Homo sapiens: one gene and its partners. The protein of the gene in region 1 interacts with the protein of each later gene in a biochemical or structural test. Each region holds a gene or a part of one and is shown in the gene's direction. Other genes may lie near its edges. The genes, in order: CHN2, ERBB3 and RAC1.

Region 1 (3,651 bases):
AAAACAGACCAAAATATTATGGAAGAGAGTATGTATTATACTATTCTTTGTTTTAATAATTTAATAAGTAGTCATTTCATGTGTCATTTAAATATTACAAATTTTCTAATATATGGTCATCATCATATGTCTATTGTGCAAGAGTTTAATGATAATAAATGCAATCAGACTCCTTTGAATTAATATTTTTTATAGTAGTCAAGTGCTTGGTTTCCATTAATGTGGGAGGTAGAGCATTTTGCGCTACTTTTCCCTCCACAAAAGAGCTACTGAGTGCCTGGCAAGTACTTGAAACGGAAGGCAGCATTTTTCATAATGGAGGCTCTCTGTTAGTGTTTCATTTCACTTTCTACCTCAACACAATAGAAACGTTTGGTGTGTCCAAGATGGTACACTGTATGTGAGTTCCTGACTTTCGTGTACCTCGGTGCGGTGGTCAGGATAGGCATCCCACTTCTCTGCAGTCTCATAAAACCCAAATGATGATATCTCTTGGCTCGGGTGTAGTAGCCAAATTGCCTTAATACTCCCCTTTCCATTTTTCTCTTAATTTCAACTCTTGTTTTGTTTCACTTTTTCCAAAACCTACTGCCCAGCAAATACGCATGACCATAAAAATAATTCGCAGTCTAAGCCTATGGTGTGTACAGCACAACACAGAGGGCAGGCAGAACGGGCCAGGGGAGAGGAGATGCATCAATCACTTTTCTTCCCAAGTCCAACCTGGAGGCGTTGTGAGGCAACGTCTCTTTTGAGTCTACCTTCCAAGCTCTCACAGCCAATCTCAAACCTTCCTCTTATTCCCTTACCCGTCAGAGCCTCATCTTCATGATTAATGACCCTCTTAGGGGTCCCAGCCCCGTGCACCTTCCTAATTGCCACAGCTGCATTTCAGAACCTTCCTCGCAGCACCCTGGGAATTTGACCAGCACCTCTGGAATGCCTGCCTGGGGGCACTGGCCTCCGCTCCTCTCTACCCCATGCCCCTACTGTCTAATCTATGTTGTAGTATGGCTTTTTTTCCTCAGTATGCTTATTTGTTTTTTCCTTGAAGATAGCACAATTAATTTAAAAAAATAGAAGAAAATGAAAACCTACCATATACACTTTTGCATGTGAATTCTAAAAGGAGCTGTTTATTATGCATTTTCTTTTTGCAGAAAAGTTTTGTCAAATAACTTTTTAATTCTCATCTTCTTACCCCCAATTCATGTAAAACATATGAGAGTCTTGAGACTAAAGAAGTGTTTTCTTAACTACCAAAAGGAACATCTTTTATTAGATGGTAATTAGCCTAAAACCTTCAGATTCTGTGTTTCCCTTTATTTTTTTAAAAAATGAAGGGTGTTTTTTTCTTCCACTTAAAAAGTAATACATGCTTCATTCAGGAAACGCACATACACATTTATTCCTAGAAGGAATCACAAGAAACTATTGACAATGGATACCTTTAGGGAGAGAGGAATTTTGCATTTTTAGTTCTTTTATACCTTCAACTTTTGAAATTGGAATTTTCTGCTGTGCACAGGTATTACTTCTGTTTCTAAAAATAAATTATGGCTGGGCACAGTGGCTCACGCCTGTAGTCCCAGCACTTTGGGAGGCCAGGGAAGGCAGATCACTTGTGCTCAGGAGATTAAGACCAGCCTGAGCAACATGGGAAGACCTCATCTCTACAAGAAATACAAATATTACCTAGGCATGGTGGCACATGCCTATGGTCCCAGCTACTCAGGACCACAGGTGGGAGGTGGGAGGATCACTTGAGCCCAGAAGGTCAACTGAACCATTGCACTCCAGCCTGGGCAACAGAGTGAGACCTTGTACAAAAAAAAATTAATAAATTAATACCAATTAACTTGGAAAATTAGAAAATAAAGGAAAATAGAAGAGGGAAAATACCCATAGTTCTACCATGAAAGAGAATCATTGCTAACCTTTTCTCTTCATCTCTTTCTGGTCTTTGTGCATGCTTGCTTTTTTCTTACCAAGTTGCAGTCATACAAATATATTAGATATTATAGGTTGGAGATATTTGGACTTTTAAAAATGATGCATAAAGGGGATGACAAGCCACAGACTGGTCTTCAGGTGCACAAAATTGTCATTTTCTTCTTTTGAATGATTGAATTTAATTTAGTTATTGACACTGTTTGACGCTGTCAATCACTTAAACTTGCCAATTCAAGTGAATTAAAACTTAAGTTCTAGGTGACTATAGTTAAAACAATTTATTATATATTCCAAAATAGCTAAGAGAGGCTTTCGAATGTTCCTAACATAAACAATAAATGCTTGAGGTGACAGGCATCCTGATTACCCTGATTTGATCATTATACATTGTACTTATGTATCAAAATATCACATGTTCTCCATAAATATGTACAATAATTATATATCAATTAAAAATAAAAATAGAAAAAGTATGCATACTCAAAATCAAGAATTAAAAAAGAAACATAAGACTTAGCTGCTTTTGACTGGGCACAGTGGCTCACACCTGTAATCCCAGCACTTTGGGAGACCGAGGCGGGTTGATCGCCTGAGTTCAGGAGTTCGAGACCACTCCGGGCAACATGGTGAGACCCGCCCCCACTCCCCGCATCTCTACTGAAATACAAAAAATTTGCCGGGCATGGTGGGGTGTGCCTGTAGTCCCAGCTACTCGAGAGGCTGAGGCAGGAGCATTGCTTGAGCCTGGGAGGCGGAGGTTGCAGTGAGCGAGCTGAGATCGCGCCATTGCACTCCAGCTTAGGCTACAGAGTGAGACTCTCTCCAAAAAAAAAAAAAAAAAAAAAAAAAATCTAGCTGCTTTTGGGTTAACTGCCTTGTTTAGAGACTACCCCTTTTCCTGTCCCTTCTCCTGGAGTGACCTGGGGCAGGTCCCTCTGCGTGCCCTGTCCTGCTATTGTTACTCTGGCCCACGGGCTGTGTCTTCGACATCCCAGCTTTTGTCTTTTCTACTTATGTGTTGGAATATTGGCAATGCTGTCTGCCCCTCCCACTCTCCTGCTGCATGTCCCTCCCCCCACACCCACCCCCACACTCACTGCCAACCCACCCGCCAACCCATCCGCAAGGCTGCCCCCAGGGCTCTTTGCCCAGGCCATCTGTCCCATCCTCTCCAACCTGGCTCAGGCTGCACAGGAGGCTCCTCCGCAAAGTTCCTAGGTCCAGTGACCTCACTATCAAAGCTCCAACACCTCTGCTCCAGGCCCCAATAAACTGGCCTCCCGGTTCCAATCCACACCTGCTATGCAGGGCCAGTTAGACCCCCTGAGACTGGGCTCTGCCTCAGTCCCTCCCACCAGAACCGGGGATTCACAGAACATTCATCCTCACTCAGAAGAGCATTGCTCCAAGACCTCCAGACATCAGCTGTTGAGATTTAAAATCAAAATTTGGGAAGCCAGAAAGCCTTTTTCTTCCAGGCCATCACTGCCGTACACCTTTAAGAAGCGATTTTGAAACACAAAGCCACAGGCTGCTTCTGACCTCACTTTCCTTGGACAGAAGCTTCAGCTTGGAAGGTCTACTTTTTAAGGATAGAGGGAATTAGGAAATAAATATTGTGATAGGCACTTTTAAAAATGTTATCCTTCTGCATTTGTACTCTAACTTAATCTTTGCATTCCTGAGGAAAATACAAAA
Region 2 (3,651 bases), on another chromosome or scaffold:
CTGCTAGGTGGTGAGAATAGGGAGTCAGGGAGGAGAGGGCTGAAAGGACTATTCTGCCCTAGACGTGGGAGTAGGGTTGAGGGATGGAACCAAGGAGAAGGGGGCTGTTAGGCTGGAAGCAGTAACGAGGAAGAATAATGAAGAGAGGGCTTGCTGGGAGTCCTCAGACTCCTCTCCTAACCCACCCCTTCCTTTCCAGTGGCAGAGGGCAAAGTGTGTGACCCACTGTGCTCCTCTGGGGGATGCTGGGGCCCAGGCCCTGGTCAGTGCTTGTCCTGTCGAAATTATAGCCGAGGAGGTGTCTGTGTGACCCACTGCAACTTTCTGAATGGGTACAGTAAGGGGAGCCAGTCAAGGATGGGTGGGGGTGGGGCCCTGCAATGGAACTGTTCAGGTGGCATACAATAAAAGTCTTTAGACAGCTTTCTGCATGTGCCTTGGTGGGATTGAGGTAGGAGACCTGTGGTTGTGAGATCGGAGCATGAAGGTCAGGACTTGGAAGTGACCCCCCCCTCCCTTTATTCCCCACTACAGGGAGCCTCGAGAATTTGCCCATGAGGCCGAATGCTTCTCCTGCCACCCGGAATGCCAACCCATGGAGGGCACTGCCACATGCAATGGCTCGGTATACTAGTAGCACCAGGATCTCCAAGGGAGACAGAGAAGGGGCAATACTTGGAGCATCTGGGGAATGATATGGCTAAGGATAGCACAGAGAGGCCAGATAATGCTAGGGCCTGCAGATAGAAGATCCTGAATGTCTGGGTTGGTCTTTGCTGGGAGGTATGGAATTGACCTTGGGATCTGATTCTTCCTGACCTTCTCTCTTCCACTCAGGGCTCTGATACTTGTGCTCAATGTGCCCATTTTCGAGATGGGCCCCACTGTGTGAGCAGCTGCCCCCATGGAGTCCTAGGTGCCAAGGGCCCAATCTACAAGTACCCAGATGTTCAGAATGAATGTCGGCCCTGCCATGAGAACTGCACCCAGGGGTCAGTGATGGGATAATAAGGAGAGGGGGTCAGGTGGAAGGGTAGGAGCACAGAACTAGAGTGAGGGAAGCAGAAAGAAGAGAGAGGCTGTGATTCAAGAATCACTCCCAGCTGGCCGGGCGCAGTGGCTCACACCTGTAATCCCAGCACTGTGGGAGGCCGAGGTGGGTGGATCACCTGAGGTCGGGAGTTCGAGACCAGCCTGACCAATATGGAGAAACCCTGTCTCTACCAAAAATTTAAAATTAGCCCGGCGTGGTGGCGCATGCCTGTAATCCCAGCTACGCGGGAGGCTGAGGCAGGAGAATTTCTTGAACCCAGGAGGCAGAGGTTGCGGTGAGCTGAGATTGCATCATTGTACTCCAGCCTGGGCAACAAGAGTGAAACTCTGTCTCAAAAAAAAAAAAAGAATCACTCCCAGCTGTGTAGCGAAGGATTGGAGAAAGGGAAAATCAGTAACAGCACAAAATTACACCACAGTTTTGGGAACCTGGAATAACCTCAGTTCAAGGGAGTTTCACAGAAGAGGGGCTTGGGGAGAGCTAGTGAGCTGGAGGTGGAGGCCATGTCTTGGGATCAGCTCTGGGCTCCAGGATGGGATGCCACGGTAAGTTCTGAAACAAGCTTTTATATGTTAGGCTGTTGAAATTGAGCCTCTGCTGTCCAAGCTCTCATTTAAGGTGGTGACTTTCTTCCCTAGGTGTAAAGGACCAGAGCTTCAAGACTGTTTAGGACAAACACTGGTGCTGATCGGGTATGATGGGGTTGGAGATTCTGGAAACTGGGGATATTTGGGAGTTGGGAGAGAGGTGGTTACCTGGAGAGAAGAGGGAGGCTGTCTTCATTCTGGCCTTTTATGTATGCAGTCCACTATCACTGGACACTTGGGACTCAAGAATGCAGGCTTCTGGACTTCCCTTCCTAAAATTAACTTTCAGTAGTCTAAGACTGGTCCAGATTTAGGTTGGTCCCTTCAGTGCTTAAGGATATATATGTGAATGTTAATTTCTTGCCCCAGGTCAGCATCATACCTTCAACACAAGTATAGTTGACATTTGTAAGGAAGATGCAAACCCAGGATAATGTTGGGTTTCTATATATCCCATAGCAAAACCCATCTGACAATGGCTTTGACAGTGATAGCAGGATTGGTAGTGATTTTCATGATGCTGGGCGGCACTTTTCTCTACTGGCGTGGGCGCCGGATTCAGAATAAAAGGGCTATGAGGCGATACTTGGAACGGGGTGAGGTGAGTACTTAGCTTACTTTTGTTTTTTCTTTTCTTTTTTTGCATGTCCTGGAAGTCTCTTTATAGCTTAATTTTGAGTGGTACCCTGTGCACCCAGGGGTCAGTGATGGGATAAATGTCACTCCCCTCCTCTTTCCCCAGAGATTTGATCCCTTTCTTCAAGGAAGTAGTGTGGTCCCCTAGAAGAACACTGGTCAGAGAAATGGGAGGCATGCATTCTAGTCCTGATTTTGCCATTAATTTGCCACATGACTTTGAAGAAGTTACTTATCTTCTCTGTGCCTCGGTTTATGCATCTATACAGAGGAAATAACATTTGTCCTTCCAGGATGGCTGTAAGGGTAAAGGGGGATGATGTATGTGAAAGTGCTTTGGAAAGCACAGAGCACTGTATAAAAGGTACTCAAGGTGGTAATAGTACTACCAACTCTCCCTAGCTGTCCCCTTCCCCACTTTGTGCTCCTCCATCAAAGGGAAAACCCAACCCCTTTGATTCCTGATCTCATGAGCACAAATAACTTCCTCAGTTCTCAGGGTCTGTACCTCAATATGCCTATAATCCATTCCAGGACTAACGGTGCTTCCTCTTCCTGCCCTTTCAGCTGTGCTGCTTTTGGCATTCACCTATGAGGAGCGGGTTGGAGTGGGACATGGGAATGGCCTTTCCTGAGTAACTCCTTCCCATTTGCTCCTCAGAGCATAGAGCCTCTGGACCCCAGTGAGAAGGCTAACAAAGTCTTGGCCAGAATCTTCAAAGAGACAGAGCTAAGGAAGCTTAAAGTGCTTGGCTCGGGTGTCTTTGGAACTGTGCACAAAGTGAGTGACCCATAGGAATTCTGGAGAGGTGGGGAAGGCATCTAGGGCAAAGGGGTGAAAGATTTTTGCATAGGATTGACCTAGGGAGAATGACCTTATGCCAACTCCTGCCCCAAACTTCCCAGGGAGTGTGGATCCCTGAGGGTGAATCAATCAAGATTCCAGTCTGCATTAAAGTCATTGAGGACAAGAGTGGACGGCAGAGTTTTCAAGCTGTGACAGATGTAAGTGAAGGAAATTCTGTATGCCGCTAGGAGAGAGGACAATATTAGATACAATCATGTAGAAGCAGGGTCCTGTGCTTCTCAGCAGCTACTATGTTAGCCAGAATGTTGGGGGTGGGGGGGCCTGGGCTGGCTGTGCACATGCTGAGTGTATGTGAACCTGTTGGTTTCCTAGATAATACCTTTTGTGTCTCTTAGCATATGCTGGCCATTGGCAGCCTGGACCATGCCCACATTGTAAGGCTGCTGGGACTATGCCCAGGGTCATCTCTGCAGCTTGTCACTCAATATTTGCCTCTGGGTTCTCTGCTGGATCATGTGAGACAACACCGGGGGGCACTGGGGCCACAGCTGCTGCTCAACTGGGGA
Region 3 (3,651 bases), about 23 Mb from region 1:
GCCACCACACCTGACTAATTTTTTATATTTTTAGTAGAGACGGGGTTTCACCATGTTAGCCAGGATGGTCTTGATCTCCTGAGCTTGTGATCCGCCCGCCTTGGCCTCCCCAAGTGCTGGGATTACAAATTTTGTATTTTTAGTAGAGACGGGGGTTTCTCCACTTTGGTCAGGCTGGTCTCCAACTCCTGACCTCAGGTGATCCGCCTGCCTCTGCCTCCCAAAGTGCTGGGATTACAGGCGTGAGCCACTACGCCTGGCCAGTGCTAGAGGTTTTAAAGTGGTGGGCTAGACTCCTGTGATGGTAGATAAAAAGAAAAACTGTGGTGTTCAGCTTGGCAGTTTTGAGTTTCAAAAGGCCTCAGCTTTTGTGAGGTTGGCTGTTACAAGTGCAGCCAGAGAGCACCAGGCACACACATGTGGTTCCGCAGAACTAGAGTTGTTACTCTTCGCCGCGAGGGAAACACGCACCTGGGGACTGTGGGAATTCGGCCCTCACTCTTACTGGCCGGGAGCAGGGGATATTTGGTGATTTTTGTGGTTTGTATGATGATCTTGGATTTGTCACTACTTAGAAACGATTATGAGTTGTTTTTTTTAAAGTTTACTTACTTTTGGTCCTATTTCAGCACAGTCACACAGGTGACCTTCTCTGATGTTAGTGTTCTGCGAGATTATTCTATTCAATAGTAACACCTCCACCAGGGCGAAGCTGCGAGTGCCAGGCTGGTTCTCATACGTCAGGGCTGCCTGACCCTTTTACAGGATTACAGGCGTGAGCCACTGCGCCTGGCCAGAATGTCTGTGTGTTTTAAAATTCCAAACTTGAAAGTAAAATCCAGGTGGATAGCATTTGGAAGAGAATAAAACGAAGTAGAAACAACACTACTTTTTTGTAGTGAGATCTCAGCTGTCCAGATGCCCGCCCTGTCTTACTCCATGGAAAGTGGACCCATCTGTTGTGGATGGTTCCACCAGTGGGCAGGAGGCTGTGGGAAGAGCAGCCCTGGCTACACTTACCACCGAGGAGGGAGTGGTGTGTGATGCAGGAGTAACAAAGGCGTTGAAGGCACCACGTGTGTAACAGGCACGCGGGAGTCTGGGTTAGTCAGAAAGGGGAAAGCAGTGCTCAGGTTGACTGGAAACATAGGCCGGTGACCGGAGACAGCCTGAGGCTCCAGAACACACAAGTGACCTGTGAGGAAGGAAACTGAGAGACCCTGGAGAGACACCGGTGGTGCCCTCTCAGGTCCTCTTGAGTGTTACGAGGACGGGGAAGAAATAGAGCCTCCCAGCCAGGGTCAGCCAGCACAGCCTCTGTATGTGAAGCGTCAGGACAGCGACGGCCGGGAGGAGGGGATGCTAGGAAGTGAGTACCAGAAGCACTAGACAGGGTTTTGGGAAGCTATATTTAGCTGGGGACGAAGAAGGAACAAGGAAGGAACAGGCAGATGGCATAGCACGAACGCCGGGTGGAAAGTGGAACTGCTCGCTCCTGTCGTGTGTGTCTCTTCTCCATCAAAAAAGAGGCTCTTAAAAATCGAAAGCATGCCACAGATACGATCAGAGGCTCTTTGGAAGCTGCATTTTTGTAACTGGTTCTCGATGATCCTCTCCCATGGTAAAGATTTGGCACCATATGAAGTCCTTGGGAGGACAAATCTTCAACAGTAGCCCATAGATGAAACCCAGATAGCTGTGGAAACTAATGTGCTCTTTGAATGTTAAGTCAGGAAAGCTTGAGTGGCCTGGCACGGTGGCTCACGCCTGTAATCCCAGCACTTTGGGAGGCCGAGGTGGGCGGATCACGAGGTCAGGAGATCGAGACCATCCTGGCTAACACGTTGAAACCTCGTCTCTACTAAAAATACAAAAAATTAGCCGGGCGTGGTGGCGGGCACCTGTGGTCCCAGCTACTCGGGAGGCTGAGGCAGGGAGAATGGTGTGAACCTGGGAGGCGGAGCTTGCAGTGAGCCAAGATCGTGCCACTGCACTCCAGCCTGGGCGACAGAGCGAGACTCCCTCTCAAAAACAAAAAAAAAAAAAAAAAAGAAAAGAAACCCCGTCTCTACTAAAAATACAAAAAATTTAGCTGGGCGCAGTGGCGGATACCTGTAGTCCCAGCTACTGGGGATGCTGAGGCAGGAGAATGGCGTGAACCCGGGAGGTGGAGCTTGCAGTGAGCCGAGATCGCGCCACTGCACTCCAGCCTGGGCGACAGAGCGAGACTCTGTCTCAAAAAAAAAAAAGAAAAAAAAGAAAAAAAGAAAAGCTTGAGTGAGATGAAATTAAAATAATTTTCTCATTTTGAGACAGGGTCTCGCTCTGTCACCCAGACTGGAGTGCAGTGTCACAATCTCGCCTCACTGCAACCTCCACCTCCCGGGTTCAAGCAGTTCTCTGCCTCAGCCTCCCGAGTAGCTGGGATTACAGGTGCCTGCCACCATGCCCGGCTAATTTTTTGTATTTTTAGTAGACACAGGGTTTCACCATCTTGGCCAGGTTGGCCTTGAACTCCTGACCTCGTGATCCACCTGCCTCGGCCTCCCAAGGTGTTGGGATTAGAGGCGTGAGCGCTTTTCTTAAAAGAGTTCCAGGGTTCTATGTTGGAAGAGCGAGTTTGTCAGTTTTTATTGGAACAAAGAAATGAATTGACAGCATTGTGATAAACACTGGAAGTGTCACTTCTAAAATTTGTCCATGGCTGAAAGTGGTGGCTCATGCCTGTAATCCCAGCACGTTGGGAAGCCAAGGTGGGTGGAGCACCTGAGGTCAAGAGTTTGAGACCAGCCTGGCCAACATGGTGAAACCTGGTCTCTACTAAAAATACAAAAAATTAGCTGGGCGTGGTGGTGTGTGCCTGTAGTCCCAGCTACTTGGGAGGCTAAGGCAGGAGAATCGCTTGAACCCAGGAGGCAGAGGTTGCAGTGAGCTGAGATCTCACCATTGCACTCCAGCCTGGGCAACAGAGCAAGACTCCGTCTCAAAAACGCTTGTCCTTAAGGGGTGGCTTCCCCCAGACCTACAAAGTAGCCCAGAATTGGAGGTCTTAGTGTCAGCAACAGTGCTGATTTTGATAATGCAAGTCTGTACATTCAAACCAGTCTCCCAGAACTAGGTGGAAGATAGGAACATTTCTGCATAGGAGACTTGGAATGTTCTGGCAGCATTAAAACCCTGAGGCCCGGCTATGTTCTGGGAGAGCCCTTTGGCAGGCATCATTTACAGACGGGTCCTTTTCCTGTATGCTGTGGCTTCAACTAGGCTGTGTCTGAGAACTCGGATGGAGCACTTGAAAGTGCCCGTGGCTCCCGCCTGCCTTTGCGGTAAGGGACAGTGCAGAACATCTCCGGCTGTGCCAGCTGTTGTAGATTCTGGTGGGTGCTGCCATGGGAGGAGGAGCACGTTGTTGCCCCCCCTCAGGATCTCCCTGACCTCTGTCTTCACCATCGTTGAACTTAACGCCTGCTTTTGACCAGGTAGCGTGGAGTGTTTCAGTGGCATTTGTCATCGAAGATATGTTAGAATCTATTGTATGCTTTTGGATCTCTCCGGAGGGTTAAGACAAAATTCTAATAAAGAATCGATAAGAGGTTATATTGATTTTTGTTGTCCTCAGTCTGTACTAAACTCAAACCAAGTTCTCATGCA

Evidence for each region.
Region 2: the proteins of CHN2 (region 1) and ERBB3 interact in a test that uses a peptide from one of them, tested with the Homo sapiens proteins (one large-scale study listed by BioGRID and IntAct).
Region 3: the proteins of CHN2 (region 1) and RAC1 form a complex in vitro, tested with the Homo sapiens proteins (2 studies listed by BioGRID).

What each region holds. Positions count from the first base shown.
Region 1 is NC_000007.14:29,393,683-29,397,333, forward strand, and holds part of CHN2 (beta-chimaerin), read left to right. Parts: coding exon 1-28; intron 29-3,651.
Region 2 is NC_000012.12:56,093,565-56,097,215, forward strand, and holds part of ERBB3 (receptor tyrosine-protein kinase erbB-3 isoform 1 precursor), read left to right. Parts: intron 1-199; coding exon 200-332; intron 333-534; coding exon 535-625; intron 626-837; coding exon 838-992; intron 993-1,692; coding exon 1,693-1,746; intron 1,747-2,100; coding exon 2,101-2,242; intron 2,243-2,938; coding exon 2,939-3,058; intron 3,059-3,183; coding exon 3,184-3,282; intron 3,283-3,480; coding exon 3,481-3,651. UniProt on the Homo sapiens protein: Tyrosine-protein kinase that plays an essential role as cell surface receptor for neuregulins.
Region 3 is NC_000007.14:6,395,004-6,398,654, forward strand, and holds part of RAC1 (ras-related C3 botulinum toxin substrate 1), read left to right. Parts: intron 1-3,651. UniProt on the Homo sapiens protein: Plasma membrane-associated small GTPase which cycles between active GTP-bound and inactive GDP-bound states.